Linked DNA regions of Homo sapiens: regions 1, 2, 4, 5 and 6 are each linked to region 3. The links come from fine-mapping of genetic effects on gene expression. A gene starts in region 3. Each other region holds a variant in brackets. All regions are shown on one strand. Distances are from middle to middle. Region 1 overlaps GRB10 (growth factor receptor bound protein 10). Region 2 has its middle 47 kb from the start of GRB10. Region 3 holds the start of GRB10 (growth factor receptor bound protein 10). Region 4 overlaps GRB10 (growth factor receptor bound protein 10). Region 5 has its middle 40 kb from the start of IKZF1. Region 6 overlaps DDC (dopa decarboxylase).

What was found. PIP is the estimated chance that this variant, and not a neighbour inherited with it, causes the effect.
Region 1: its variant is fine-mapped to the expression of GRB10 in whole blood (TOPMed, PIP above 0.99).
Region 2: its variant is fine-mapped to the expression of GRB10 in whole blood (TOPMed, PIP above 0.99).
Region 4: its variant is fine-mapped to the expression of GRB10 in whole blood (TOPMed, PIP above 0.99).
Region 5: its variant is fine-mapped to the expression of GRB10 in cerebellar hemisphere (GTEx, PIP 0.98).
Region 6: its variant is fine-mapped to the expression of GRB10 in naive CD8 T cells (Schmiedel 2018, PIP 0.95).

What each region holds. Positions count from the first base shown.
Region 1 is chr7:50,712,419-50,717,451 of GRCh38, reverse strand. The region is part of intron 4 of GRB10 (growth factor receptor bound protein 10); the gene reads left to right. Among named protein-coding and RNA genes, the nearest start is that of GRB10, 68 kb to the left of the region's middle. RefSeq lists an enhancer at 1,727-2,242. The variant T/G (reference allele first, on the strand shown) is at 2,785.
Region 2 is chr7:50,827,382-50,832,414 of GRCh38, reverse strand. No RefSeq gene overlaps it. Among named protein-coding and RNA genes, the nearest start is that of GRB10, 47 kb to the right of the region's middle. RefSeq lists an enhancer at 4,817-5,033. The variant G/A (reference allele first, on the strand shown) is at 2,390.
Region 3 is chr7:50,780,728-50,785,760 of GRCh38, reverse strand. GRB10 (growth factor receptor bound protein 10) reads left to right here and starts at 2,865. Exons shown (of 19, transcript NM_001350814.2): 1 at 2,865-3,337; 2 at 5,025-5,033.
Region 4 is chr7:50,744,609-50,749,641 of GRCh38, reverse strand. The region is part of intron 3 of GRB10 (growth factor receptor bound protein 10); the gene reads left to right. Among named protein-coding and RNA genes, the nearest start is that of GRB10, 36 kb to the left of the region's middle. The variant G/C (reference allele first, on the strand shown) is at 2,851.
Region 5 is chr7:50,262,265-50,267,297 of GRCh38, reverse strand. No RefSeq gene overlaps it. Among named protein-coding and RNA genes, the nearest start is that of IKZF1, 40 kb to the left of the region's middle. RefSeq lists an enhancer at 132-231. The variant A/T (reference allele first, on the strand shown) is at 2,112.
Region 6 is chr7:50,490,434-50,495,430 of GRCh38, reverse strand. It overlaps DDC (dopa decarboxylase), which reads left to right. Exons shown (of 15, transcript NM_001082971.2): 9 at 14-81. Among named protein-coding and RNA genes, the nearest start is that of DDC-AS1, 39 kb to the left of the region's middle. The variant A/TA (reference allele first, on the strand shown) is at 1,615.

The sequences.
Region 1 (5,033 bases), 68 kb after region 3:
CTCTTCAAGCTTCTCATGTGAGTGAGTGTCTCTCCTTGCGGTGGCAGCATTAGGAGCACATGGCCTGGCAACTGCTTCCTGTGGTGGAGCCCAGTTGCCCCTGACTCCCTTGCTGTTTGTTGAAGCTGGAGCAGTAACCAGACTATTGTGCTTATAACTGCTTTTCAAGTACGTAAGAGTAGGTTCACCTCTGAGTGGAAGGAATGGTGAAGACTTTCTGTGTTTCTGTCCTTGATACCCCCTTGCAGTTGTTAGGCTGCCACAAAGTGGGAGACTGTCTCCTTGGAGTTTGAGAAGGGAGCTAGCATGTGTTTTGTGACAGGACTTTGTATACCTCATCTCACTCAGTTTTCCTACCAAACTTTTTGAAATGGGTATGATCCAAATTTGCCTACAATAAAAGTGAGGCTCAGAAACTTTGGTTGACTTATCCAGCCCGGCCAAATAGCGGGAATGCAGAAAGTGCTGGCTGCAGCCTTTATTTTCTCTGGCCCCAAACCTGAGCTCCTTCCTCCCTCCCCTCATCTGGCCTCATCATTTGGAGGTAGTTTATCGTAATCTTTTCCATCTTCCTTTTCTCTCTGTGTGCCATTCTGGATAGTTTCTATTACTATGTCTTCATAGGGTGCTCCTACCCTAGACCTCTCCAGACCACGCCAGCCGTTGGGCGAGGGAGCCTCACAGTGTGTCTTTGGAGATTGGTCACTGGGGATGGAGGGAGGGGAGAGAAGCGTGGTGTCCAATGTCTGGTTAATCCTGCCCACATATTTTTCATCTCCTGTGTTGCATTTTTCATCTGTAGGGTTGGATTTGGTCATTTTATATCTTCCACTTCTCTCCTTATCACTCATGCTTTGCTTTTCCTTCTTGAATGCACAGAGCATATTTATCTTCATCATTTTAATATATCGCCTGCTGTTTCATCTTGGACATTTCTGTATCCGTTTCTCTTGGCTGATTTCCCTTATCGTTATGGGTTTTATTTTCTTTTCATGCCTGGTACTTTTTGTTTCGATCCCAGTCATTGTAAATTTCACCTGGTTGGGTGTTGGCTACTTCTTGGGAGGGGGCTATTCTTTTAAATATTTTGGGCTTTATTCTGGAAAGAAGCTTCTTGGAAATAGTTTGACCCTTTTGAGGCTGGCTTATAAGCTTTGTTAGCTGGGCCCAGAGTCACTTTTAGTTTGGGGCTAATTTGCCCCCACTGTTGAGGCAGGACCCTTCTGAGGGCTGTCTTGTGTCCCATGCGTAAGGAAGTTTTCCATTTGGGTTGGTGGGAACACGCTTCTCTCCAGATGGCTCTGTCTCCTTCATTCTGGTGGTTCTTCCCAGTCTTGGTATTTTCCTTACATGCATGCGTCATTAATCCTCAGCTGGAGATGTGTGTGGAGAGCCCCCTCTCTTGAGCGCTCTCCTCTCTGCCTTGACCTTCCTGAGTGTTGAACTCTGTCTCCTTAGGACGATCCTAGGCTCTGCCTGGAAGGGAGATTCCCCCTCCCTGCGCTGCAGCTTGGAAGCTCTCTCCAGCCAGTGAGTGGGCACTAGTAGGGCTGCGTCATGTGGATCATGTCTCAGGAATCACTGTCCCATGCTGCCTGTTGTCAAATGTATGAAAACTGTTTCAGTTTTAGTTATTTAGGGGGAGAGGGTACATCTAATCCTTTATATTCCATATTGGCCAGAAGCTCAGAAGTCACCCATGATATTATTTTAACCGTGGTTCTAGGAGTAGATTTGCTTTGGAACATTTTTGTGGAGTGTGCAGACCCAGCTTTGGAACTCAGAAGAAGTTTAGACGTCATATGGTCCAAAAACCTGATTTTATTGGTGAGGAAATAGGCCCAGAGAGTGAAGTTATTTGCTCAGAATCATAGTTTGTCACACTGGCAGTTTGTAAACATTTGGCTCATGCCACAATAAGATTTTTCATACCTGAAGGGCGAGGTGAACTGTTTCTTATGGCCCACAGCAAGGTTGGGATCCACCAATTGTTCCTGCTGTAATGGCTGCCCGAGTTTGGTCTTACTGGGAAAAGTCACTCTTTGGCAGAGGGATTGAGTTTCCTGAGCCCTGGGATCTGTGCTGTTTATTCATTTTTATGAATAAAACGAGCTTTATCCAAAGCCTCTGGGGAGCATCACTATGAACCGCCGTCCTCTTGCCCTGCCAGCCCAGCCCTTCTGCTTGCACCTGGAAGCTGCTCCATGCCCTTCCCTGCTCCAGATCGCGCCTGCCCTTCAAAGGGCTGCCACACCTGGGAGCCCCAGGCTGGAGCTCCAGGCCAGACCTAGCTTACCTCATTCCGCCTCCAGCTTCTTGGCATTGGCTGCCATTTACCCTTGGCCCCCTGCCCTCTACCTGTGGGAGGGACTTAGAAATGAGGAAAAGCCACCACCAAGGATTCATCATATCAAACCCTGGGGCCTTTTCCTGGTCAGCCAGGACAATGAGAGTTATTTCCAAATTCTGAGATTATTGTTGAGAAAGTTCAAGGAAGAGATTTCTCTCTTCCTTCTGCTCATGGGGGAAGAATGTGGGTGTGTCATGTGCCTCCTACGGCCCTGATCTGCTAGGAGGGCAACCCTGGCTCTGTTGATCACTCTCACAGCCGCACATGGTTTGGTTCTCTGGTTTTAGTGTAGAGGTTGCTGGGGTTGTGGGACCCAGAGAGAAAACGAGAAGCTTGAAGCTGAAGAAGTTGGGTTCAGTGCAATTGCAATGGCTTTGTGCACCCCACCTGGGAGCTCAGGAGGGCTCAGGATTGCACTCCGTTTTTTGTTTTTT[T/G]TTTTGAGACAGAGTCTCGCTATGTAGCCCAGGCTGGAGTGCAGTGGTGCAATCTCGGCTCACTGCAAGCTCCGCCTCCTGGGTTCACGCCATTCCCCTGCCTTAGCCTCCTGAGTAGCTGGGACTACAGGCGCCCGCCACCACACCCGTCTAATTTTTTGTATTTTTAGTAGAGACGGGGTTTCACCGTGTTAGCCAGAATGGTCTCAGTCTCCTGACCTCGTGATCTGCATACCTTGACCTCCCAAAGTGCTGGGATTACAGGCATGAGCCACTGCTCCTGGCCTCAAGTTATATTTAAAGTATATAAATATAATTTGACTATAACTTGCATTGTCACTGATCCTCTTGTGGTACTTTAAAGATTGTGTTGTCAAAATTATTAAGTGGGTAGTTTAGAGATTCTGATCTTCTGATTTCTCAGACTGTTAAGTTACTCTAGAACTCATGATCGATTAAGGTACTGCTACATGTTGACTATTCTAACAAATTAATATTATGTTAATACATGTGGATATTTTGGTGTCTGAATAGTTGCCTTTTTGTTGAAGTTGGGGATGGAGGAAGTGGTGAGGAGGGGTGAAGGTAGGGGAGGAAGAGGTAGAGGTGATGGTAGAGGTGGTGGTGGAGGGGGAGGAGGATATAGAGATAATGAAGAGTGTGGAGGTGGATGTGTTGGTAGCAATGGAGGTGTTGGAGATGTAAGAGGTGAAGGGTGGTGGGAAGGAGCAGAGGTGATGGAATGGGTGGAAGTGGTGATGAAGGGGTAGGTAGTGGAGGAGGAGGAGGAGCTAGAGGTGAGGGTGGAGGTGGTAGAGGAAGTGGACGAGGTGGAGGTGATGGTGGAGATGGTGGAAGTGATGGTGGAGGTGGTAGAGGAGATGGAGGAGGTGGAGGTGAGGGATAGAGATGGTGGAGGAGGTGGAGGTGATGTGATAGTAGAGGAGGTGGAGGTGAGGATGGAGGAGGTGGAGGTGACAATGGAGGAGGTGGAGGTGGTGGTGGAGGAGGTGGAGGTGATGGGGGAGGTGGAGGTGATGGTGGAGGAGGTGGAGGTGATGGTGGAGATGGTAGAGGAGGTGGAGGTGAGGATGGAGATGGTGGAGGAGGTGGAGGTGATAGAGGTAGCAGAGGAGGTGGAGGTGATGGTGGAGATAGTAGAGGAGATGGTGGAGATGGTAGAGGAGTTGGTTGAAGTGCTGGAGGTGATGATGGAGGTGGTAATGAAATGATGGTGGGGGTGGTAGAGGAGATGGAGGTGGCGGTGGAGGAGGTGGAGAAGGTAGAGGAGGAGCTGATGTGGCAGGAGAAGTGATGGAGATGGAAGGAGGTGGTGGGAAGGGGTGGAGTGCTGGTGGAAATGTCGGGAGGGGAGGTAGTGACCGCAGAGGAGGAGGAGGCAGGGGCAGTAGTGGCAGTAGTAAAAATAGCAGCTGAGATTTACTGAGCCGTGCTTTCCATGTGTGATCACACTAAATCTTCAATAGTCCTTGGAGGTTATACTCACACAGGGTGGTTTAATGTCTTCCCCAAGGTCATGTAGCTACTCTTCTGTAGAAATTCTAGAGCTAGTGCTGTCCCCCTTTCGGCCAAAATGCCTCATTGATGTGGGAATACCAGATGCAAAAACAGGAACAAAACTGACTTGGCAAAGGCATTTTATTTTGGGAAAACCATTTGTCAAGATTGACAGGCTCTGGGCAGGAGGTTTCTTTGTAGGGTGATGGAAATGTTCTAAAATTAGATTGTGGTGATGGTTGTACAGATCCTTAATTATACTAACATTCATTGGTTTGTACACTTCCAACAGATGAAATTTATGTTATGTAATTTATATCTCAATAGAGCTGTTTAAAATGTAAATGATTGATAGACTCCTCCCCTTGTGAATAACCAGAATTGATGTTTCTGTGCTGAACACTGCAGAGTGGGTGGTTAAAGTGAGGCAGCTCATGCACTACTTTTGCTTTTAATTCAAGAATGGCTGCACTTGGAGGTAGTTATGTGGAAATAAGTGCCTGAATATGGAGTACAAGCCACTGATCTGTGTGTTTTTTAGGCCGTATGATTTTAGTGAAAATGTGATCATTTTTTATGTGGTGGTATTTTCCCTGCCAGGCCAGGCATTCTTACCATTTGGGAGAAAAGTTTTTTTGTACTCTGACCAGGGCTTGCCCAGATATTTTCATGTTGGCCTCAGCAGCCTGTGTGAATACAATTGTAAGTAAAGAGCATCCCCCTTGTTCCTT
Region 2 (5,033 bases), 47 kb before region 3:
ACCCTATTTCTGAATTTCCAGTGCTAATGTATTCCAGAATTTCTCCCAGGAATCCACATTGGACAGAAGATAGGTGAATGTCATATGCGCAGAGCCCATCCCCACAGTGGGAAAAAGTGTGGGCTTCACAGACACCCTCAACGCTGATGGCAACCCCCTGCTATCCTTTCTTTTCCCCACACCATGTGAACAGACCTCCCTCAGCACCCGTAGAAGGAACCAACCCTGCCAACCCGACACCTGGATCTTCGACTTCTCACCTCCAGAACTGCGAGACAATACATTTCTCTTGTTTGAGCCACATGGCTTGTTATGGCAGCACCGTTTGAAGGGCAGCACACTGCCCTTCAAAAAGAGGAGACAGACAAGCTGGGCAGGGCAAAGGAGATCTCCCCAACATTGTAGGAGATCAGAATGGCTTGGCCATCATTGCTGAGGCCATAACTTACCTTTAACATGGATGGCCCCTTAAGTGGAGTATGAGGCAATTCAATTGAAGAGATTTTAAGAGTACATATGTCTATACCTATATCTGTATTTATACAGTGCTCATTAGCCAATGCGACTAGTGGCTACCATATTGGACAGCACAGATACAGAACATTTTCATCATCACAGAAGGTTCTGCTGTACAATAATGCTCATGAGAAGCAAATGATGTGAAAGTCATGAGACTAGGGCTCTAGAGCCCTGGCTGGGTTCCAATCCTCCTCCTCCTCTCCAATTTCGTGTGTGTGTGTGTGTGTTTGTGTGTTTGTGTGTGTGTGTGTTTATCATACCCACGCTTACCATGGAAGTCACTTAGGAACAGAGAACCTCAAGGTCAAACTACTCTTTGCCAAGGCTTGAAATTCATGGCTGTTTTTAAGAACACTTATTTACTTGATCATTTTTATTGTTGATCTTTTAATCTACTTTTCCTAAATTTCATCTTGGTTTTTTTTATTTTAGACAGTCTTCTTTCTGTTTGGCAAAACTATTGGTTGGACACTTTTGTTGAATTTCTTCTTTGTTCAGAAATCAACAAAAAACCCCTCAGGTTCAGAACTTCTTTTCTGTTGAGCATGTGCAGTTCAAGGGTTGAAAAAGACAAGGGCTCTGTCTTCAACAGTATGGAGCTGGGCTGTCCAATATGGTAGCCAATGGTCACATGTAGCTATTTAGGTTTAGGTTTAAATTAGTTTAAATTAAGTATGGAAGTCCCCAGTCACACTGATCAAGTGCTCAGTAGCCACATGAGACTAGTGGCTACCATACTGGACAGCACAGATATAGAAGATTTGTATCCTCACAGAAGTTTCTGCTGGACAGTACTGCTCATGAGAAGCAAATGATGTGGAAGACCTAGAGCCCTGGCTGGGTTTCCGTCCTTGTCTCCAATTTCCTGATCATTCATCTTAGGCAAAACATTTGATATTTTTCACTTTTTTTCCCTCTTCCTACTAAAAGAGAAGGAAAACTAGCTTGCTTACATAATGGACGTAGTTTGTGAAATAAAAGATATGTATACAATTTAGTGCAAAAAATATTTATAGAACAATTACCGTGAGCCAGGTATCACGGTAAGTCTGCAGACCAAACACATATAACACATTCTGCTAGCCTCATGGAGCTTGCAGTCAAAGAAGACAAAAATGAGGCCAAAAATAATTATAATACAAGCAATAACAAATATGCACAAGATATTGAAACTGGACAAAATGATACAAAGGTGGAATGATTAATTTGAGGGCAGTGCAGACATTTGCAGGAAGACCTCATATAGGAAGTGTTTCTGAAAGAGAAAGTTTGGAAGATGAATTGGAGTTTGATAAGTTGCACCCGAGTTTTGTGTATGGACTGTATACAATAAAATTCAGGTCTCTCCAGGCGCTGTGGCTCATGCCTGTAATCCCAGCACTTTGGGAGGCTGAGGCAGGTGAATCACGAGGTCAGGAGTTCAAGACCATCCTGGCCAAGATGGTGAAACCCCGTAACTACTAAAACTACAAAAATTAGCCAGGCATGGTGGCTAATCCCAGCTACTCAAGAGCCTGAGGCAGAGAATTGCTTGAACCTGAGAGACAGAGGTTGCAGTGAGCCGAGATCGTGCCACTGCACTCCAGCCTGGGCGACAGAGCAAGACTCCATCTCAAAAAATAAAATAAAATAAAAAAATAAAATCCAGGTCTCTTCTTTCCTCCTCCATTTCTTTCCTCCTCCATTTTCTTTACTGTGATCACAGCTCTACATCTGAAGTGTTCAAACCTTGGGCCGGGTGCAGTGGCTCACGTCTGTAATCCCAGCACTTAGGGAAGCCGAGGAAGGCAGATCACCTGAGGTCAGAAGTTCGAGACCAGCCTGACCAACATGGTGAAACCCTGTCTCTACTAAAAATACAAAGTTAACC[G/A]GATGAGGTGGCACATGCCTGTAATCCTTGCTATTCAGAAGGCTGAGGCAGGAGAATCGCTTGAACATGGGAGGCAGAGGTTGCAGTGAGCCAAGATCATGCCATTGCACTCCAGCCTGGGCAACAAGAGTGAAACTCCATCTCAAAAAAAAAAAAGTGTTCAAACTTTGTAGCCGAGCTGAAGAACACACTATTCAAACAGTCTTATGTGAAAGCAAAATGTGTAAAATGTATAAATGCAATGTAGGGTTCCACTTTGGGCCAACATAGAGTAACAGGTATCACATTTATCCTCTTGATGAAAATAATAACAACAACAATAAAACAAGTTAAAAACACCATCAGCTTTCAAGATACTAGACACCACCTGATGCAGGACAGTGATCACCATGAGGCAGGAAGCAAACCATGCAAGCCTTAACATTGCCCCTCTCTTGAAAGAGCTCCCAGGTAACAGTGCAGAGGGAGGAACCCACATGCCAGAAGACTCCATAATTTGATGAGACAGAGCTGAGAGGTTATATGGTTCCATTTACGTGAGATGTGCAGAAGAGGCAGACTTATGGAGCCTGAAAGTAGACAACTAGTTCCATGGGCTGGGAGGAGAGGCAAGTGAGGAGTGACTGTTAATGGCATTTCTTTTTGGAGTGATAAAAATGTTGTGGACCTAGACAGTGGTTAGGGTTGCATAACTTTGTGAATACACTAAAAAATTAACTGTATTGTACACTCAATAAGGGTGAATTTTATAGTATGTGAATTGTATCTCAATAAAACATTTACAAGATATAGTATTAAAGGCCAGGGAGAAATGAAACTATATTATACAGCTATTAAGTCACCAAGGATGTATTCTGTTATTTTGTTTCTTTGTTGTTTTTATTTCATCCTCTTTAGTAGACATCACTGCTGTTCATCAATTATTTCCAGTATTTTTCACTTCCGGAGGTATGCTAGGCTTGTACCTCTCTGCCCATGTGTTAGTCAGCTCAGGCTTCCAGAATAGAATACCACAGACTGTGTGTGCCTTAAACAACAGAAATTTATTTCCTCACAGTTCTGGAGGCTGGAAGCCCAAGATCAACAAGGTGCAGGTAGTGTCATTTCTGGTGAGGGCTCTTTTCCTGGCTTATAGACGGCTGCCTTCTCACCATGTCCTCACATCCCTTTCCTCTGTCCACACACTCCTGGGGGCCCTTATTCTAAGTCATAATAACTTAACCTGTCCCGAGTAATGCAGCCTCCATAATAAATATCATTATCTTGCTTGAGTTTCTTCATGTTTATAATTTTTAAAAATCATATAACATTTCAAAGAGTTAAGGTTTCACTTAAAAAAAAAAAGACCCCATTGTGGAACACATAAATTGTTTCCCATATTTCTCTATTAAATAATCAGACTGCAAAAAACTTATGAATCTGTCTTTAAAAAAACTTTTTTAAATTCCTTAGGTTACATCCACAAGTGAGATTATTAGATCAAAAATCCCACAATTTTATGGATGTTGATTTGTATAACCTTTTACTCTATTACTTATATAAATGTACCTATTCCACTATATCTTTATGATCATTAGGTTGTAGTATTGTTTTCGCCTTATTAAAGTGATATACAGATAATCCCCAACTTACGATGGTTCAACTTAAGGTTTTTCAACTTTACAATGGTGCAAAAGTGATACACATGTAGTAGAAACTGTACTTTGAGTACTTATACAGCCATTCTTAGTTTCGCTTTCAGTACAGTACTCAATAAATCACATAAGATATTCTCCACTTTTTGTAATAGGCTTTGGATTAGATGATTTTGCCCAGGTGTAGGCTAATGTCAGTGTTCTGAGAATGTTTTAGTCTCAGCTACAATGCTCAGTAGGTTAGGTGTATTAAATGCATTTTCAACTCACTATATTTTCAACTTATGATGGATTTATTGGGAAGTAGCTCCATTGTAAGTTCAGGAGCATCTGTATTTATACTTAGATTTGTGCAAAAATTCATTAAAAATCTGTGTAATTTTGCATAAAGCATAAATCAAGGGTGATTACTAGATTCTAAAAAGTAGTCTTCTGAAGTGCTTTTAAAGTTTGATTTGTTTCAATCAGCATAATGGGTGTGTCTAGGTCAAGTGTGAGGATTATATTTTGGTGTCCATCGAAGTAGGTGGGGTGTAAATTCTATGAAGGGCCGGACTGGCAGAAAGATGTGGTCCTCATGCTAGGTACTTCATGTAGTCATATGCACAATGAGCTTAAAAAGCAATTGGAGTGTCTTGGTCCATGTAGGTGGAACATTGAAGAGTGTCAAGAAGAGCTGGATGGGAGGTGCTGTCATACAGGCAGGGCTCTCTCTCAAGGTCAGCTCTGCCTCCTGTTGTATTGGCTTCTTCTGAAGGCAAGTTCTCTCATGAAGTGGGGAAGATGGCCACCACCAGCTTCCCAGTTTAGCAGCACAGGGAAAGTGAAACTCTCCTTCCCAACATACACATAGCCACCTCAAGGGAGGCCCTCCTGGCCCTGTGGAAATGCATACCCTTTGCATCAGTCCTTCCTCCTGTGGCCCACTGGGGGTGGTGTGCTGATGGACAACCTAGGACCACAAGGGATGGGGAGATGAGTTCTTCCAGGGATGGGGGATCCTGGACAGA
Region 3 (5,033 bases):
CCGGAAAGCAGAGCCTATGGCAAAGCCTTCTGTGCTTCTATTGTAGGAGGGTGTGCCAGCCTGGTGGAGGGAGGCTGGAAGGAGGGAACCTGGGTGCAGGGTGAGGCGGGGTGCCCGCGGTGGGCAGTGCCTAGAATTGAGTGAAGCCAATGGTTCCACATGTGGGGCTGGCTTGTGTCACGAGCTCCCAGTCCTCCAGACAGTGCTGGGAAGGGGTTGGGGTGGAGGATGTATCTCCTGTCAGTGCCCGTCACCATGGGCCAGGGTTGCATCTGGGCTACATCCCTGCAGGTGCTGGGTGTACAGGCTCTTCAGAGCCCTGGTAGGAGGAGGCTGTGCTGCAGGACATAGGGGTCCCATCAGATGCGGCTCAATAGAGCTGTGGACAGGGCCCAGGGAGGTGAGGCATAGGAAGTGTTTGTCCCATGCAATTTGGCCACATCTTTCACCTTAGAGGCTTCGCTTAGCTGTCTGGGGTCTTCCCACTTTCAAAAGGACATTGCTCAGAAGCTGACAGGAGCCCTGTGTGAGTGAGCATTTAACTGTGGCCTCTGTGGATGGACGCCTGGTTGCTTGTTGTGGGGCTCATGCTTTTGGGTCTCTTCTCAGCTCTGCAGGAGCCTCTTTCAGTTCTGTTGGAGGTGCTGCTCCAGGAGCTGCTGGGGATGGTGGTGGGATTCATATGGCAGCTAGCATGTGATCCACCAAATCTTTCTGGGACTAAAGGCATGGCTGTGTCTGCTGATCCTGGTCCAGAGACCTGTGTCCCTGCTTCCAGAAAAGAAGTCACCTAGCTGATGGAGCTGGGGAGAGGACCCGGGATGAAATGGGGCCCAGCTATTCCTGACACTTCCGATTAATCTTCTTGTTTTGGACTCTACGTTTCCCATTTCCAGAGGTGAATGGTAGTTCTCATTCCTGAGACTTTCTGGGCTTCCACTGAGTATATCATCAGGCTTCATCTCCACTTTCCAGCTTAGCCTTCATCTCTTTTGCCTTTGCTGTCAGTTACTTCTTGACCACTGGCTTTTATGCCTTTTCAAAGATTCTGTTCTTGTTCTAGTAAAGCAAAATGTGTGTCCTGTCAGCCATTCAGTGAAGGTCTGGCTTTTCAAGATTCCTTGTCCATCATTAGATCATTTCTCTCTTGCTCTTCCCACATCCAGGAACAGCTGCTTCGAACTGGGACCTCTGGCATTTTGTAATAGAGGGGAGTGTGGCAGGGAAGCCCTCTGTCCTGCACAACCTGTTGTTCTAGCCCAGGAGATGGCAGGGTGCGTGGGATGTTCAGGCAAAGGAGTTCACCATCCAGGCTGGGAGCTGCTGGGCAGGGAGGCAGAGGAACACTCGAGCCACCTTTGTGGGGTTGACTGCAGAGGTGGAAGAAGCCACTGTGTCAGACCGCAGAAAAGTCTCATATCTGGAGTCTGGAAGGAAAGCCAAGTTCTCCCAGTCAGTAACCTGCTCTGGACTTTGGATAAGTTACATAATTTCTCCACACTTTGGTTTCTCCCCGAATCTCAGGGTTTGATTCTGTGCTTCCATTTCCCATTCTGTGCCTTGCGATGTTCACTATGTGACATCTTCTCTGAGGGGTGCGCAGTTAGAGTCAAAAGCGCTAACACCTTCAATGTTTCTTGCAGTAGCCAGGCCATATGTGGTCAGCCCGGACTGTGAGAAAAGAAAGCCTTGTGTTACCCTTTGTGTTGTGTTGAAAACTGCTCTTGGCTGCTTTCAGAACCAGCCTTAACTCTGCTTTTGTTTGATCGACTTAAACATATTGGAATTTTGTGGTCATGACCACCGTGGAACCTCTCCTTTTGGAGTGCATATCTGCACTTTTTCCAGCCTCCTCCTCCAGTGACCTTCAGGGGCCTGACCTGGCCTCCGAGCAGTTGGACTAGGGTAGCTTTTCCACTCTTTGAACCCCAGACTGAGATGGGGTTTTCCCAGCGCCCTGCCCCTTAACGTGTGTGAATGCAGTATAGGATCTCAGTTTCAGAATCCATTGTCCACTGTTGACTGTTAGGTTCTTACTGCTGTCTACAATGTCTAGCTTTTCCTACCATGTTCTCTGCTAGAGGGGAGTAGAAAATCTGCTTACTGCTTACTGTGGCCTTGTAAACGGCAGTGAATATCTCCAAACGTTCTGTTTTGCTTCCATCATTGCAGGCTCGTGTGTATGTCTGTGGTGTATGTGTGTGCGGGGGTGGGGGAGTATGTGTGATGTGTGTGTGTGGTGTATGTGTGTGTGTGGTGTGTATGTATGTGTGTGGTGTGTATGTATGTGAGTGGGTGGGTGGGATGTGTGTGGTGTGTGTGTGAGGTGTGTGTGGGGTGTGTGTGTGTGTGAAGTGACTAGCACATAGCAGATGCTTGGTATGTATAGGATCTGTTCTTTCCCTCGCTGACTCTCAGTTTAAATGGGACCCTACTTTGTCCTCGTTGTTCAGTAACGTTATGCCTGTGGCTTCCAGAAAGAGCCTCTCCCTTCCTGGTTCTTGCTCTGACATTTTGGGGAGAAGGGTGAGACGAGAGTGATCCTGGAAGAGTAGAACTGGCCGGCCCTGCAGGTGGAAGGTTGCTCGAGCAGGCGGCATCTCTAGCTTGCCGCGGCCGCGATGTCCCCCGCCTGTCTGCGAATGCGGCGTAGCGGGTAGACATGGAGGGCTTTCGGCATCGTCAGAGTGGCCAGTGTGCGCGTCCTTGCCCATCAGGCGGGGGGGCTGTGGGGGAGGAGAGGAGGCAGTGGAGGGAACAAGGGGTTCTTCAGGGTTGCCATGAGAACCAGGGATCCGGGGATTGGGCAGCAGAGGGCCCCCGCCGGGCGTTGGGGCGTGGCCGCGTCACATGGGTTTGGTCCTGGGATTCCTGTTGTGCTCCAGGACCGGGCGCTGCTCCGTCGTCCTCCCGCTCCTCAGGAGCGCCCAGTCCCTCGGAGGCTGAGTATTGCAGCCGGGCGGCAGCCGGCTCCGCGGAGGGGCCCCCGGGCACCTGCGTGGTGATGGCGCTGGGAGCCCCCGGGCACGCTCGGGCGGTGGCGCGGCATCCCACCCTCGCCCGGATGGCGTCCCCAGAGGCGGCGTTGGCCCGCTTTTCGTGCTAGCGCGTTCGCCTGGCGCGCGGTGGCCCCGAGGCCCCGGGTCGGTTTTCTGCGCCGCAGGCCCCTGGCCGGGGCGGAGCCGTGGAGGACCAGCCCGGCCCGGCTCCGAGCGCTGTCCATGCGGAGCGCTGTCCACGCGCCGGGCACTGCGGGGGCCGGGCCCCGAAGCCCTACCCGGGCCGGCGGCGCACACGCAGCGACCCCGTGCGGCCAGTGCTGCCGCCCGCTCTCCAGGTACTCAGGTGGGCTCCGCCGCGGGCGCTGGGCGGTGGGCGGTGGGCGGTGGGCGCGAGCCGGGGCGGCGGGCGGATCGGCCTGCGCAGGCTGCAGAGGCCCCGGCCGCGGCGGACAGGGCCCGGGAGGGAGGCGGGGAGGTCTTGCCGCGCGGCCCCCTGCCCGCCTGCCGCGGGCTCGCTGCAGTCCGAGATCCCGAGCTTCGTTGCCGCCAGCCATAGGACAGTATTATGTAACCATTTTTAATCTTAATTGTTTAATATTATGTAACGAGTAATAACTGTACCCACGGAAACCCGTGACGACGATTCGAGCGAACCTCGCCCGCTCCTTCCTCGCCAGGTGGTGGGCAGCGGGTGTGGGAACCGGTTTGGGAAATGAGTGGATCTGGGCATCCGGGCTACTGCACCGGCTTTTTCTGTGAAAAACATAATGCTAGAGCCTGCCTGGAATTCTCTTAAACCTGGATGGCATATAGTCCGGTATAAAAAAGCTTTGAGTAAACACGTATAGTCAACGTTGCCTCTTTCTCCATGAAAACCTCTTTCTCCCTGGAAGGTGCATATCAGACAATGTGAATTGAGCAGTGAAGATGTGGGCATGGGGTTCGTGTTCTTGATGGAGTTCAAAAAATTGTGCATATGAACACGTAGGACGTCCTAGCCCTTGCTCTTTAGAAAAACAATCGGATCACCTGTTCCACACGCCAGTCGCCTCCTTGGTCGGCTGCCATTTGTCTGTTGATGGTACAGTCCCTGCCAGGGTGCTGGGGGGACCTCGTCTGCGGAGCCGGCACACAGGTGGCTATGGGCGGGGGAGACTGCAGTCTAAACCCGCAAAGCTCTCCTTCCTAGCCCAGTGAGGGGAAGCGTGGGTGTCTTTCCTCATTGTTCTTTTTAAGTCTGAAAGGCAGCGACTGCAGGGATTATGACGTGCTGGCGGCCAGGGCCTCGGGTGCTGCCTGGAGTCTCCTGCGTGTCTCTGCTCCTTTGATGTCAGCATCGGGGGTGGGAGCAGGGCCCACGCATTCCCCCTTTGGCCTGGGTGGGAACAGGGGAGGTGGTGGGCAGGGCCAGAAGGGCTTACTGGGATTTTCTTTCTCTCTGTCACTCCAGAGAAAGGTGGTAAAGAACACTTGTTTCAGTTTGAGGTGCTCGGCAGCCACGCGCTGAAGGACGGTTTTTAATTGTAGGGTGGGGTGTGAGTGCAGTGTGGTTCAGTCCCCTCCCCATCTTGTGCTACCTGCCGTTGTACCTGGACCTGTGAATCAGGGATAATAGTTACTATCTTGTAGGACTGAGAATGGTGCATACTAACTGCTGAGGAACATGGTGAATGGAGTTATGGTAATTGCACGATTGGCATGAAGGGGTGAGAGAAGTTCCAGATTGGTCGATTAAAATGTGAGTTATTTTTAGTGTCTCCTAAGGATTTCCATCACCAGTTGCTCCTCCAGCCATCATGTAATTACCACCCCAGAACTAGGCTTCCAAACTTCGAGAGAACACTGCATCTTTCGAATTTTGGAGGTTAGGCTCCAAAATTTGCATATTTAGGCCACAGCCTAAATTCACTGACACTTGTGTTCCCACAAAAGCCAGGCAGCTTCTTGGAGTATGTACTTGTGACTTAGTAAGAATGTCTTAGGAAACTCGCTTGGACTAGAATGGTTTTACCTTTCTTTCAGACTTGGGAG
Region 4 (5,033 bases), 36 kb after region 3:
AGAACCAATGGAAGAAAAATGCTTTGAAAATGACAAATTCCACAAATTATACAAAGTTTCTAAGAAGAACTCCTGGAGATTATTTATAGAAGCTCTGGTAATATAGGATGAGTGTGGCCAGAGTAGAAAAAAATCTACTTTTATCAAAGCAAAATTATTTAAAATTCCATCTCACAATTATACATTAAAGAATTTTATAACAATACAAATTTTGGCCAGGCATGGTGGCTCATGCCTGTAATCCCAGCACTTTGGAAGGCTGAGGTGGGTGGATCACCAGAGGTCAGGTGTTCGAGATCAGCCTGGCCAACATGATGAAACCCTGTTTCTACTAAAAATACAAAAATTAGCTGGGCATGGTGGTGAGTGCCTATAATCCCAGCTACTCTGGAGGCTGAGGCAGGAGAATCGCTTGAACCTAGGAGGTGGAGGTTGCAGTGAGCCAAGATCGCACTATTGCACTCCAGCCTGGATGACAGAGTGAGACTCCATCTCAAAAAAAAAAAACAAACAAAAAAACAAAACAAAACAAAAAAACCCAACATTTTATATAGAATTGACTAACGTGTTTGTAAACATCTAGACCATTTGAGTTTGACAAATTGTGGCATCCTCTAGATTGTAGAGTCTAGACCCATTCCACCCTTTTACAGGTGAGAGAACAAGAGTTTTTATTTAATATGTCTTTTAATGTAGCACCTCTTTATAAAGTAGAGGTTCTGATTTCTTATGGCCTTTTGGAAATAAATGTCCTGGTAGCTTTTCCCTGTTTTGAGGATTAGAGAAATTACATTTTGCACACGTGGGTCTCACTCTCTCCATGAAATTCGATTGTTTTACTTCAGAGTCTTTGTGGTCAAGATGGATATCATTGCCCTTTACCCCAACTGGTCCCTATTCCTGGAGCACTATGGGGTCCAAAGGCCTCGGTCCCCGCCACAGCAGCTAAACACTGGGGTTGCTTACATTCCTGAACTCCAGGCTCCTCCTCAGTGACACTCGGGGTATTGTTAGGAAGAATGAGAAGGAAAATGGAAGTCAGCGCTTAGCTGAGAACCTGGCCCATTATAAATGTTCCACAAAGGCTTGTTTTTACCCGACCCCATCCCTGGTACCCTGATTTTCTCCGCATTCTCCCAGCCTGTTGTGTGTGCCTTTGCCTCTGGTTTTGTTATGCTGTTTCTCCTACCTCCTTTCTCCACTCCTAATTTCCAACACTTTCCCGAGCTCAGCTCTCACATCTGCCGTGACGCTCTCCCTGGCTGTTGTGGTGCCCACTCGTGTCCATCTGCATGGCACTTGGCCTATAGCAGGTAGGTGTGCACTGTCTGATGTCCATCTCTAACACCAGCACATGGCTACTCCGTCATGGGCCACGGGGCCTCCTCCAGGGTGCTAGGCAGAGAGGAGGAAAACCCCTACCTAGGGCTTCCTTAATTAATCCGAAACCACAGGACCCCGTTAAAGATGGGGCGGGGGGTGAGTGATTACGTTCAGTTATTAGAGCAGATCCACTCCCTCCCCATCCTGAAATAACAGTGTCACCAGCATCATCAGGCGGGGATGAGAACAATCCTATCCTCTGGAATTTCCCACCTGCACGCATGCGTCCTGCCTTCTAGAATTTGCCACCTGCACGCATGTGTCCTGCCTTCTGTGATTTCCTACCTGCAGGTATGCTTCCTGCCTTCTGGAATCCCACCTGTGCATGCATCTTGCCTTCTAGAATTTCCTATCTGCACACATGCATCCTGCCCATTCATCATCTCCCACGCCTTTCCTATCTCGATGTCTGGAGACGCCCTCCTTCTACTTGCCCAGGCCCGAGGTCTCCACTCCGCTTTTCTTTCACGTGTCCCACCTGCTAGATTCAGAATGCACCACTTCTCTCCTGAGCATCCATCAAGGCCTGGGTGCAGGATTCTGCTGACTGGTTTCTCAGCTTCTCTCCTCCCAGGCGGCCTGTTTTCAGCAGAGAAGCTGGGGTCCCATGGAGCTGCCCTGCTCCATGCTTGCATGCCATTTCTCTCAGCGTTGGAGCAGAGCCCTCAACAGTGAGCGTGGTGGGTGTCTGCCCAGTCAGCTCTGGGGGTGAAATGGAGAAGCGGGGTGGAGGGAGAAAAATCCCAAAGGGTTGGAGAGAGGGTAAAACCATCTTTGAAAATGCTTCACCCCACTTTTCCTCTTGAGAGAGCTGCCTTGCTAGATTAAAGGCTCAAAGAAGCACTGGAAGAAAGGAAAACATTTGACTTTATAGAAAACCTGAACTTGTTTGACTGTAAGCGCCTTTGTTTTGTGGATTTGGAGGGAACGGTGGGGACCTGCTCTGCTTCGCGGGTTTCCTCCTCAAAAGCAGGAATCCCAGCCCCAGGCCAGGTTCAGCTACCGCGCCTGGGCTCATGGCTCAGGGATAGGTCGTGTGTCTCTCCTTAGCCTGGCTTCCTCATTGTAGTGCCCACCAGCAGCGACCATGACTGTGAGAGTGAGAAGAGACCATGATGGAAACTCCTAATGATTCAAATAAGTTTAGAGAGAATTTCGCTGCAGAAACTGGGGCTTTGGAGAGACTGCTGATTTGAGGGGTAGGAGGCAGCGGGTTTCGAACATGCTTTGTCAACACTTGCAGAGGGATGCAGAGAGAGAAAGGGCTAGAGCTAGAGGAGGACATGCTTAAGAGAAATGTCACTTTGCTTCCTCCCTTCCTTCCCTCCTGAAGTGGGAAATGCACACAAATGTTCATGGACCCAAGGGAGGGAGGACATGGGCAGGAAGAGGTCATGAATTGAGGCGAGAGCACAGAATGGCTCACGCAGGGACAGGCCAGGGGAGCCCTGGGGACTGGAGGCCCGG[G/C]GGGCAGAGACTGGGTGGTGTGCAGGCCCTGAAGTGATATGGGTGTTCTGCAGGAAGGGGTTTGGGGATGCTGCACTGAAAAGGGTGGGGATGGGAGGTTTAGGGCAGTAGGCAAAAAGCCTCTTTTGTGGAGAAAGTGAGTAGCTGAGGGTGAATGAAGATTTGCAGCACAGCAGGGAGGGTCTGCAGGTAGTTTTTGGTGATTGCCATTATCCTCTTTGGTGCTGCTGAGGAAAGGCCCTCACAGGAGTCCACACAGTTCCTGGGTCTGGCAGTGTCACCAGAGGGTGCCCGCTCCTCCCTTATTTCATTAGAATCCCGGTCTTAGGTATAAAAGAAAATAAATCACTCCTTGGTTTACAGGGTTCCATTCTGATAAACCCATCATAAGACACAAATGTCGTAAGTTGAAAATGCATTCAGTGCTGGCAACACGGTACATGGTGCCTGATTTAATGACGGTTTGACTGTTTTAATTTTAATTTTTGATCTAATAATGCTTTGTGTTTTTGGCTTTTGGATGGTGTGAAATCGACAAGTGTTCAGTAGAAACTATAACCCAATGGTAAGTTGTAAGGAGATTCTTAACTAAAAATGGGTTTACATCCTCATCAACTCATCATAAAGATGAAAAATCCTGAGTTGAACCATTGTCAAGTTGGGAACCATCTGTACAGATTATGAAGAAACCAGGCTGCCTGTGGAGCTTGTATGGTTTCACACTGCCACATCCTACTCTCAGTGGCACCCAGGACAGCGTCCTTACAGCTCAGATACTGGACTCTGGGGCCTAATTGGGAAGAGAGCAAATCCCAGGCCTTGTTCAAGATTTGCCAAAAGAATGAGATTAAGATCTGATGCCACTATCTTCAGTATTTCCTAATTTAGCCAGAGAGTTTACTTTAGCATCTAGAAAGTGTGATTAACTACTTTAGCGTTTAGAAAGAGTGATTAACTTTTTGAGGCCTTTAAAAAGTTTTCTTTAGGTAAAAAGATGTCTTCTGTGAGTTATTTGGGTTTTATTATAGGGACAAATGGTTTACCATCTAATATTGATTGGAATGACTTTGGAGCGCATTTAGTTTATAAAGTGTTTAAATCCAAGGGCTGTTTTATAGAGCATCTTTTATTTTTCGGATAAAGTTCTAGCCGTTTTCCCAACAGTTATGAAATTCACTATTTTTAGGCGGCAAAGACAGATCTGAGTGGTTTTGCTTTTCCTTCCCGTTGGCTTTATCTATTCCCAAAGGAAGACAGTGCTTCCGGACCAGTGGGGGTTATAGTTGGTAATGTGTTGTCATGGCAATTGTTCCCCTCTTTGTCTTAATTGATTTGGTGTCTTAATTTTTGTTTCTCTTTTTATAGTTTAAATGTACAAAGATCTATTCCTTGGAAGACACCCAAAGGCATTCGGTAATTTGTAAGAATTTGTAAAATTCAAGTATCAAGGATTCCAAAGGTAGAAACAAATCTTTAATGAATTTAGAAAAATATTAATATATCAGAGAACAATAAGTTCTTTTAAAAGGAACCCAATTTTAAATCTATATTTAAGTAATACGCATTGCAAATTTAAAATTACAGTTGACTCTTGAACAACATGGATTTGAACTGTGTGAGTCTATTTATATGTGGAGTTTTTTTCAGTAATTACTAGAAAATTTTTTTGAGATTTGCAACAGTTTGAAAAATCTTACAGCATAGCCGAGAAATACCAAAAAAATTAAGAAAAGGCTATGTCATGAATGCATAAAATATATGTAGAAGACTAGGCTGTTACTCTAAAATATATACAAATCATAAAAAAGTTAAAGTTTGTCAAAACTTACACAAACACAGACCATACATGGAGCCATTTGTTGACAGAAATGTAAAAAAACCCATGAAGGTGCTGTATGAAATCATCACTGCATAGAATTAACTGTAGTACATACTGCACTTAATTTCATAGTTATGAAAATTACTGTACTACTGTAATAATTCCACTGTTGCTGTGAGCTCAAATGTTGCAAGTATACGCTTTAAATGCCATGTGATGCTAATCATCTCCATGTGAGAAGCTCCCATCCCAGTAAATTGCTCATTGCATTAAAAAGTGACCTCTCGTGGGTCTTGTGTATTTTTCATGTTTAATGCAATACCGTAAACTTTGAATAACACAGGGGACCCATACTAGTGAAACT
Region 5 (5,033 bases), 520 kb after region 3:
GCCTCCTCCTTTCTACACACCAGCTGAGCTAGAACTCTATCATGCAGCAGTGGGGCATTGCTACCAGAATGGCTGCTCTTGAGGGAAGGGGAAGACTGAAGATCAAACCATGCATGGTTCACAGTAATTGGTGCTCCTTCCCAGTTCCAGTTGAGCAATGTAAAAGAAGGTGACTAACAAGACATTAAACTGTGTGCATGTTTCAAAGCACACCCAGGACAGAGGCTCTCGGAACCCACAGGAGCCTGTGGTTTCTGAAATATGGGTGGGTGGCTTCCTGCAGCTGCAAGGCATGCTGGGGAGGGGAGATGAGATAGGCCGCGGCCCCGCCTCACCCCCTCTTCCCGAGTGGTTTGGCGCGGGTGTGCCCAGCCTGCTGCTCCTGGCCAGGCAGTTAGAGTGGAGGGAAACCTCCCGTTACCAGGAAAGCAAATAATGGGCAGATCAAATAAATCCATGTGGCTAAAATGCAAAAACAGATAGAAATCTATCTCAGGCCAGTGCCTGTGGGAGCAATGGGAAGAGATTCATTTTATTTTGCATATGTAGACAGTGATTTTAATGTTATGTAAATGCAGCCAGCGATTCCTAATTGCTCCTGAAATGCACGTGTCAGGGGCTCTGTTGCAGCACAGGTTGCTAATGATAGAAATAAGCTGTGTTTTTTACAAGGAAGGCTCGCGATTACCAGCTTTTGATTTTTCTTTTTTTTTTAAATTACAAATTTTAATTAGGACAAGCCAAGGCAATGAAGGTGGAGGGGCAGGACTGCAGAAGTGCCTGGGGTAGAGACAGCTCAGAAGAGTCACCTGGGCATGGAGAAGGGGTGCCACAGGTGGCCTTGCGGCTCTGGGTCAGCCTGAGAACAGACACTCCTGATTTCAAAGTGTAAAGTGTCATTCACCCCCTCTGAAGCACTTATCCAAGCTGACATACTGGGAAGTCAGGGTGGGAGGCAATAGTCTCTGGTTTCTCCAGGAAGATGAGCTGTGATGATCTTTCCCGGCAAAAAGCCGAGACTCTCAAGAGCAAAGTAGCATTGCACAGGGGCAAAGAATGACAGGAAAGTCACAAGTGTTGGGTGATGCAGACCACACACTTGGGGCAGGAAGAAGAGTTGGTGGAGCCCACCAGAAGGGAGGAGGTGAAGACCAGTAAAGGCAGTACAGCCCTGCCCCCTACCCCTCCTGCCCTGTGCTCCAGCACAAGCCCAGCTCTGTGACCCTCTTAACATAACACCCTCTCTGAACAGAGCAAGAGCCTCTCCCTCAGGCTGCAGGTACAGTGCCTGTCTGCTAGGCGAGACCCACCACCTTCAGAGATGCCACTTACCCAGGACACCCTAGGCTGTAGTGATGGCCTTTTCATCAAGATTATCCAATCTTTATCCCAGGACTAAGCCAGACCTCCAGAAATGTACATACCTGGACCCAATTCTCTGCCTCTCAAGACGACGCCACAAAGCTTTTCAGACTTAGATTTTCCACTAAGGATTGTTGAAAGAAACAGCCACATGGAATAATTGTTATTGTGGCCATTTTTTTAAAAAAACCAGGGATGTTATTGATAATTTTGCATCCTATGCATATATACCTTTCTAAAGCACGGGGCCAAGGAATGTGATTTTTCCTGAAAAGCAGCAAGATCCACTGTGACCAGACTGTGAATTGTGCAAACTGGAGTTTTCCTATTTTGTCCTGACTTAGACAAGCCAAGGAAGCTCAGAGTCAAGGCCTCAATCAGTTTCTAAGCTTCTGTGTATGTTATCTTCCATCCCTCAACTCTCAACAGAGGTTTTTCTTTATACCCTCCACCATCTTCACTCCTTTATATTTCATGCTCCCTGATTTCATTCTTAATGTGGCTGGTTTTTTTTTTTTTAACTCTGAGCCAACTTTAAAACAATTTCAAAATTGGGAGAGCTATTCATAACCAAATTTAAAACTAGTGAAATGTGTTTTGATAGAAAAATGCCTGGAGTCCTGCCCCTTTGGCATTTTTGCACACTCCACATTCACACGTTGTAGGTAGAGGTAGGTGTGACCACCTTTCCCAAGGCACACAACATTCTCAGCTGAGCAAATGAGTTCTGTGATGTAGTCAGCAATTCC[A/T]GCTTCGGAAATTCCACAATGGTATGAAAGAAAATAGTTTTGCTCTTATAAGAAAGAGGTTTCAAGCCACAAATGAGTCATGGGCTACCTCTATCTCCTACTGCTCTTTTTCATAAAACCGAAAACTTCCCCTTCCCCCCAAGCCAAACCCTCACCTCTCCTTGTCACCTCTTAGTCCTAGAGAATCACAAGTCTGAAATCACCCTGAAGTTCTTCCTTACCCCCATGTTCAAAGACACACAGAACCTACAACAGAACCTATCTTCCTAGTGTGTCTTTCATTCATGTTTTTCTTCCCTCATTCAATATGAACCCTGCATCGTCAGACCTCTGTCCTCTCTGCAGACTTTCCCTGAGCCAGGCTCCCTCCCCACTCTGCTGCCTGGTCTTTCTGGTCCTGGGGCTTGTTCTGCCCTCCTGAGGCCTTCCCTGTCCACTCAACCTCGCACATCACCAGCCCCTCTATCTGACTCTTCACCCCACTATCCTGATGATTCTTCATGATGCTGTTCCTCTCTAACAATATTCATTTTTTTTCCTCTTAACTGTCTCTCTTCCCCACTAGAAAGTAGGTGCCATTAGAAAAAGCATTGCACCTGCCCTGTTCTTTTGCTGTATTTCTTGAGATACTTGAGAATACTTAAGGGACTGAATGAATGAATGAATAACTCACTTTACCCAAGTCTGTCAGCATCATTCCGCTGGGCGCTTGCAATAGCTCTCATTCTCTGCCTCTGAGTCCTCCCATTTTACTTTACCTTATATAAGAGCTTGACTAATTTTCCTGGAATACTTATTACCTTTTAACATCTTTGAAAAGTTTTCCATTCAAAGCACAGAACAAAGTCCAAGCTGCAGAGCATGCTTTTGACTATTGCTTTCATCTGGCTTCTATCTATGTTTCTAGCATTGCCTCCCTGGAAACTAACTCCACTCCATCTTAACATTTCAGCTTCAGTTGCAACCAGGCATGCCCCCCAATTCCAGGTCCTTTCTCATGCCATTCTCCCTTCATTTAATTCCTTCTTCCTATTTTCAGGTGAGAGGTATTCCCATGAAGAATGAAAATATTCTTCAGAGTCAGTTAGCTTTGGATTCAGATCCTGACCCACTATTTACTACGCATGGGCTCTTATTTTTTCCCCCTCTTTGATGACATGTGAAGATGAAATAAGAAAATATGCATCAAACACATGGCAACATTTTAGTTTCCTTACCTACATCTTCCATTTTCTACAGTCCTTCTTGTAAGAGCTGCTTCCAGTCTGTGTATCTCCCAGAAGGCATTCCTAACTGCCTGTGATTATGTCTTTAGTAAATTTTCTTCCATGTTCCATGTCTGCACACATCATAGGTAACTTAAATTTACTTGACAATGTTATCTAACTCTCTGTATCTATATCATCCCTTCCCAACTAAATTTTATCCTCATAAAGGACAGGGAACCTGTCTTCCATTACGTTTCTTTTTAGCTTGCCCTCCAGAAGGTTCTGAATAAATGTTTAATACTTTTGTTCATTCATTCATTTATTTGATAATAAATACTTGTTATGTGGAAGGTGAGATGCTCAGCCTTGTAGAGGGGGATGCATATGAAGCAAAAGAGAGATTTTTTTTCTTCAAGAACTTACAATCTTTTTGGCTTTAATCCACAGTAAAAAGTGCATTATATAGTGATTTTGTTTCTCCACTATGCTGGGAACTATGCCAGCACCAACGATGCTGGTGAACAAAGATATACATAGTCTATGCCTTAAATTCTTACAGACCAGATAGTAAGAGAGAAACTGTATCAAAGGAGAGATTAATTCAAATTTAATAGACATTTAGGATAGAAATAAGTGAAAAGGATAAAGATAATATAAAACAAAAGTGTAAGAAAACATTTCTTACTGGATTTTCAGTTTGAAAAAGAAAGATCAGATTTGCTATTCTGAAATATCCTGAGTTGGCAATTATCTGGTTAACTTCCACAGTTTAATATAGAGTTCCTCTGGGAGGAGAGCACCCTGCCATTTCATATTGGCCCCTGTAGATCTTCTCTTTCAGATCATTTCCTGTTTTGTCCAACTTCACTGGGTTTGAGGCTACTGAATGAGAATCAAGTCCAGTGATGACTCAGTACTGTGTTCACTCACCTAATCTAGGAAAGGCAAGAGACAGAGGTGGGAGGGACCTTTTCTTCCTCTTTTCCCATTGTGCTTTTGAATCAATGTGTTGTAGTCAGGGATAATCACAATTATGCTTGGAAATTTTCAAAGAAAAAGTTTGTTAATTGACTTAAAGCAAGGTTAATCAACCAGACGGGAGTGACCTCTTTGGGGCCTTCTCTCTATTCCAGAGAGAAGTGGTGTGGTGAGTGTAGTCTCCCTCCTCCTGCATGGCCTTCTCAAACCTTGACTCCATCTTGGGGTGCAAGCTCTCAATGGAAATTCACAGGTTGTCTGTTTAGTTCTTCATCATATGGTGCAATAACACACATGGTGGATTATATAACCTATTTTTTTTGTGGGTGGGGAGGGCAGTCCCATTACCAGAACAAGTCCCCCCAGTGGAAGGCAGAAGAAGAAGGGGAGGGAGATGGGCATTTTCAGAGCCTGAGGTGTGCCAGGAAATGTACGTTGGCTTACCGGTTCCCATGAGAACCTTGTGAAATGGTGATCTCTGTTCACATCTTCAGATGAGGAGTTTGAGACAGTGAGTGGAAGGTCTGGGTGGTGGCCTGCTGTACTATCCTGACTCCACAGAGAGATAAAACTGCCAGGTACAAATGAAAAACAGAAATCCTGCAACTCCCTGCCATCCAACTACCGATTGTTTAAAATCCAGGAAGTGCAGGGTTATCTATGGGGTAGGGTTAGGTGGAGATGGAAAGCTGAGATGGTTCCTGAACACTTCTGTTTGGTTCACTCTATTTGCCAT
Region 6 (4,997 bases), 290 kb after region 3:
TGTTCTTTGGCAGTTTGCAGATTCATTCAACTTTAATCCCCACAAATGGCTATTGGTGAATTTTGACTGTTCTGCCATGTGGTAAGTTTCCCTGCTCACAGATGTCAGTTGCCTGTCCGAGGTGACAGTGAAAGAAGCTGGCAGGGAAGATGCCAGAGCCAAAGGGGTGCAATAGTCACTTAGCTCACTGCTTGCTGCCTTTTCTGAACCCTTGATGGAATTATTGCTAATTCTTAGCCTCACTGGAAACTTTTATCTAGGGAATATCATTGCAACATACTGGCATAAGAAATGAGAAGCCTAAAAAGGACAATTTTTTATTTGATTTATCCAGCATTGACAGAAAACAAATGCAAGTACACACTTCTAATTCAGTAGCTTGTGTTTTCATTCTTAGATTCGTAACCAGTCTTAGTGTAATGCTAAGTTTAAGCAATCTGAGTCCAAATGCTTAAAAGTATTTGCTAAGGCCGGGCACAGTGGCTCACACCTGTAATCCCAGCCCTTTGGGAGGCCGAGGCGGGTGGATCACCTGAGGTCCGGAGTTCAAGACCAGCCTGGCCAACATGGTAAAACCCCGTGTCTACTAAAAATACAAAAAATTAGCTGGGTGTGGTAGTGCATGCCTGTAATCCCAGCTACTCAGGAGGCTGAGGCAGGAGAATCGCTTGAACCTGGGAGGCAGAGGTTGCAGTGAGCCGAGATCATGCCACTGCAATCCAGCCTTGGCGACAAGACTCTGTCTCAAAAAAAAAAGTATTCGCGAAAGAAAAATAATAGTAACCATGTTTCCTAAGAATTTCCCTGGAAATTCTTTTCTTCCTCTCTTTTTTTTTTTTCGAGACAGTGTCTCACTCTGTCGCCCGGGTTGGAGTGCAGTGGTGCGATCTTGGCTCAAAATCTTTTCTTTCTTTCTTTCTTTTTTTTGAGACAGTGTCTCATTCTGTCGCCCAGGCTGGAGTGCAGTGGTGCAATCTTGGCTCACTGCAAGCTCCGCTTCCCAGGTTCATGCCATTCTCGTGCCTCAGCCTCCCGAGTAGCTGGGACAACAGGCGCCTACCACGCCCGGCTAATTTTTTGTATTTTTAGTAGAGACGAGGTTTCACCGTGTTAGGCAGGATGGTCTCGATCTCCTGACCTCATGATCCACCCTCCTCGGCCTCCCAAAATGCTGGGATTACAGGCGTAAGCCACGGTGCCTGGCCGGAAATTCTTAATAACAGCATGATAATACCTTGGTGATATTTAGAATAAGAAAAAGAACTAAAGCATTAAAGTGGGTGATATTACACCACCTACACAATGTTTAAAGAAATAATGATGATGGGCAGTGATACAGGGACACTAGAAACTAGTTTCTCTAAAGTTTTAAAGTAAGAAGTTGATTGATTGATCATAGGGCCAGGAGGATTTGCATGAATTTTGTACAGTATGCAAAACTGCAAAATTTTCCAAATATTCAGAAGGCTTTGCAAAATTGTTCAGTATGTAATTAAGTGAATAACTTTTCACTTTCCTCCTAAGCATGAGGAAAGCAGCTTTTATACAAAACAACTAATGTCAGCTCTCAAGGTTACCAAAATACCCGTTTGACCTTTTCCTGTTTTTTTTTTT[A/TA]AGGCTAACCACATTTCTAGTCCTTTACTTGTATACAAATCAAATTATTTTTTGTCAGTCTTTTTCCCCAAACTTCTGCTATATAATTTTAAAACCAGTTGGTATGTGGGCATTTCAGACTTAATTTTGTCTGAAATAAGTATTTATGAAAGACATGGCCGTTATGAATGTGAGTATTCTTTTGTATTCTTGTGGTTGTGTTTTTCTGTTTCACCCAAGGTGGAACACAGTGAGGACAGTTTGCACCGTGTGCCAGAGGTCCCTTTATTCGAGGGGTAATTTTGATTGAAATGTAAATCCGCTCTGCTGAGGTTTTTGGTCAGTGGGGAAAATCCTCTAAGGTGGCTGGAGTTCGGAAGGACCAGGCAGAGCATCCACAGGCTCTGGCGGGAACAAGTGGCTCTCCCTACATGCTTTTGTTTTGCAAGGGGCAGGCGTCCTCAGATGCCTTCCACAAAGGAAGCCCTAGAACCACCCTTGAGCAGGGCAGGGCTGATGGGCTGTCCGGAGGAGGGGTTCTCGTGCGCCCTGAGGCCGTCCTCAATGCCTGGATAGAACAGTGATATCAGCAAGGCTGTTTAGTGACTGCGGATAGGTACATCCAGGCTCCCTTCTAAGTCCCTAACCTCTCGTAGCTCTCTGGACCCCCACGACAGCCCTGTGTTGAGGGACACAGACATTGCCACGCTCTCTTTACAGATGAGGAAACTGAAGCGGTCAGGGACCAGAAATATTTTGGGTCCCTAATCTTGGAGGCAAATATTGACACACGATAAGAAGGAGTGTAATGAATGCGGCGTCCTGCCCTCAGGTCCAGACAACCAGTGCGTATGTTAAGGCTGAAGAAAACCTGCTTAGTCAGTGCGGTGGTGAGAAGGAGTTGAGCCTTTCGGGACGTGGAGTGCCTGCCGCAGAGCTGATGCCCCGAGGCTGCCGCAGACGCTGCAGAGCTGATGCCAGCAAGTTGGCGGCTGTGCGCTCATCTCTCCCGGACAACTCTTCCCCGGCGCTCGGGGTTCAGTTCAGCCACCAGCCTGTGAGGGGAAATTTGACAAAGTGGAGGTGATGTAGGGAAGAGACACAGGACACACAGGGATGAGGCCAGGCCATTTGGAAAAGGCCATTTGGAAAATTTCCTTGTAGAAGGAATTAAACGTAAGCCCTAAGACACAAGAGAGGCCTGCGGTGTCTGGAAGTCTGCCACAAGAGAAGGGTGATGGGGTTAGTTCCCATCCTCTGGAGTGGGCGACAGTGGTGGGGCAGGGTGGTTGCAATACTTGAGGAACCTCTTACCTTCCTATGGGCTTGAAAGGCTACAAAATATGTTTTTAAATTGCAATAGAGAATGTGCTCTTTCTCTCCTGAGCCGGTGCGTTCTCGACAGAACAAGAGTCAAAGAATTTGGTGAGATGCTGTGTACCTGGAAAAATCAGATCTCTCCAAAACCCAAGGTTTTGTCCCATGACACTATAAAAATGGCATGAATGTTGATAGATGAAATCTGATCTTTGAAAGATTTGTGTTTTAACACAGAAATTGCTGATCTTTACTGTTTGGGGGCACTGTGCCTGCATTAGTTGGCTAGGGCTGGCTTAACAAAGTGCCATGGACAAGCGGCTTAAACAAGAGATGATTTATCTCAGTCCTAGAGGCCAGAGGTCTGAGATAAAGCCATCAGCAGGCTGGTTTCTTCTGAGGCTTCTCTCCTGGGCTTGCAGATGGCTGTCTTCTCCCTGTCCTCACATGGTCTTCCTTCTGTTTACCTGTGTCCAAATTTTCTCTTCTTATAAGGACACCAGTCACATTGGATTAGGGCCTGTTAACCAAAAAGTATCTGAGACAGGTCTCAATCAATTCAGATGTTTTATTTTGCTAAGCTTAGGGACATTCCTGGAAGAATAAACATGGAATCACAGAAACAGGGTGTGCTTTGTGCCTTTCCCCAAAGATGATTTTGAGGCCGGCAGTATTTAAAGGGGAGGGCAAGCTGGAGGGGAAAGAGGGAGGGAATGGTCACATTACTGAATCCACGTGTTGTGAGAGAAAAGGAGCAGGTAGAGGAATAGTCAATGATATATTTGTCTCACGCCCAGTAAATCAGCTCTTTATATAAGATAAGGTGAGCATAGAGTAGCTACCTGTAGAGATATTTAACCTTTTATCTGTAGCTTTCTGCTTAGGAACAAAAGGAAGGGTATCTTCTTGCATGAAAGCATCCAGCTTATTTTTTTTCCTTTGGCATAGTAAATTGAGGCACCAAGTTTTTATTTTCCGTTCACATTTCTTCCCCTCCCCTTTTAAAAAAAGTCTTCAGAAAATGCATTTTAGAAGAAAATGCGTCTCTAGTCTTGGGGTTTTGTCTGGTCTCTTGTGACTAAGACAGTTTATTTCTAGACAGGTCCCACGTGGTTAGGAAAGCTCATTTTTAGCAGGTTGTAAAGTCTCATGACCCATGAAGGAAAAAAATAGGTGGAGGAAGAGAGAGAGAAACAAACAAACAAACAAACAAAAATAAAGGGAGAACAATCCTGGAAAACTGACATAAACCGTATTACTCTGAAGTCCCTATGTCAGTAGGCAGGTATGAAAGTGATTTACGTATATAAATAGGTTCCTGTTATTTTCTTCCAAAGTTGACGTTGTCTAGCTTCAGTTTACAGGGCTTTAAGAAAAGCATAGCTTAATATTTAGTGATTTCAAATCACGATTAAAAAGGAAAAGAAAGAAGGAAAAAAAACTGACAACATTATTTTCCAGAATTGTAGCCAGGAAAAATTTTAGAATTCAGCCCAAATTGTAGAAAATAATAAAAACAGACAAACATTAGGCAAGGCTAGACTCTAATTACAGATGTACTATAGTTTATTTTGAAACATAATTTTTCTCTTTCCAGTTCCCCAATTGTATTAAATACAAGATTATAATAGGGCCAATTTATTTGTAAAATAAGTTTTAGTTCTATTATGATTGGCTTGATTATTTGGATAAAGTGCAGCAAGAATAATCATTTGCCATATAGGTTTGCTCTCTCGCTCTTTTTGTTGTTGTTGTTTTTAAATTGGTTTTGTTGGAACCTTTTCATAAAGAATCTAAGATTTAGAGCTTTTGTTGTTGTTGTTGTTGTTGTTGAGACAGAGCCTTGCTCTGTTGTCCAGGCTGGAGTGCAGTGGCATGATCTCGGCTCAGTGGCATGATCTCAGCTCACTGCAACCTCCACCTCCCAGGTTCAAGCGAGTCTCCTGCCTCAGCCTCCTGAGCAGCTGGGACTACAGGAGCGTGCCACCACGCCTGCCTAATTTTTTGTATTTTTAGTAGAGATGGAGTTTCACCATGTTAGCCAGGATGATCTCGATCTCCTGACCTCATGATCCACCCACCTCAGC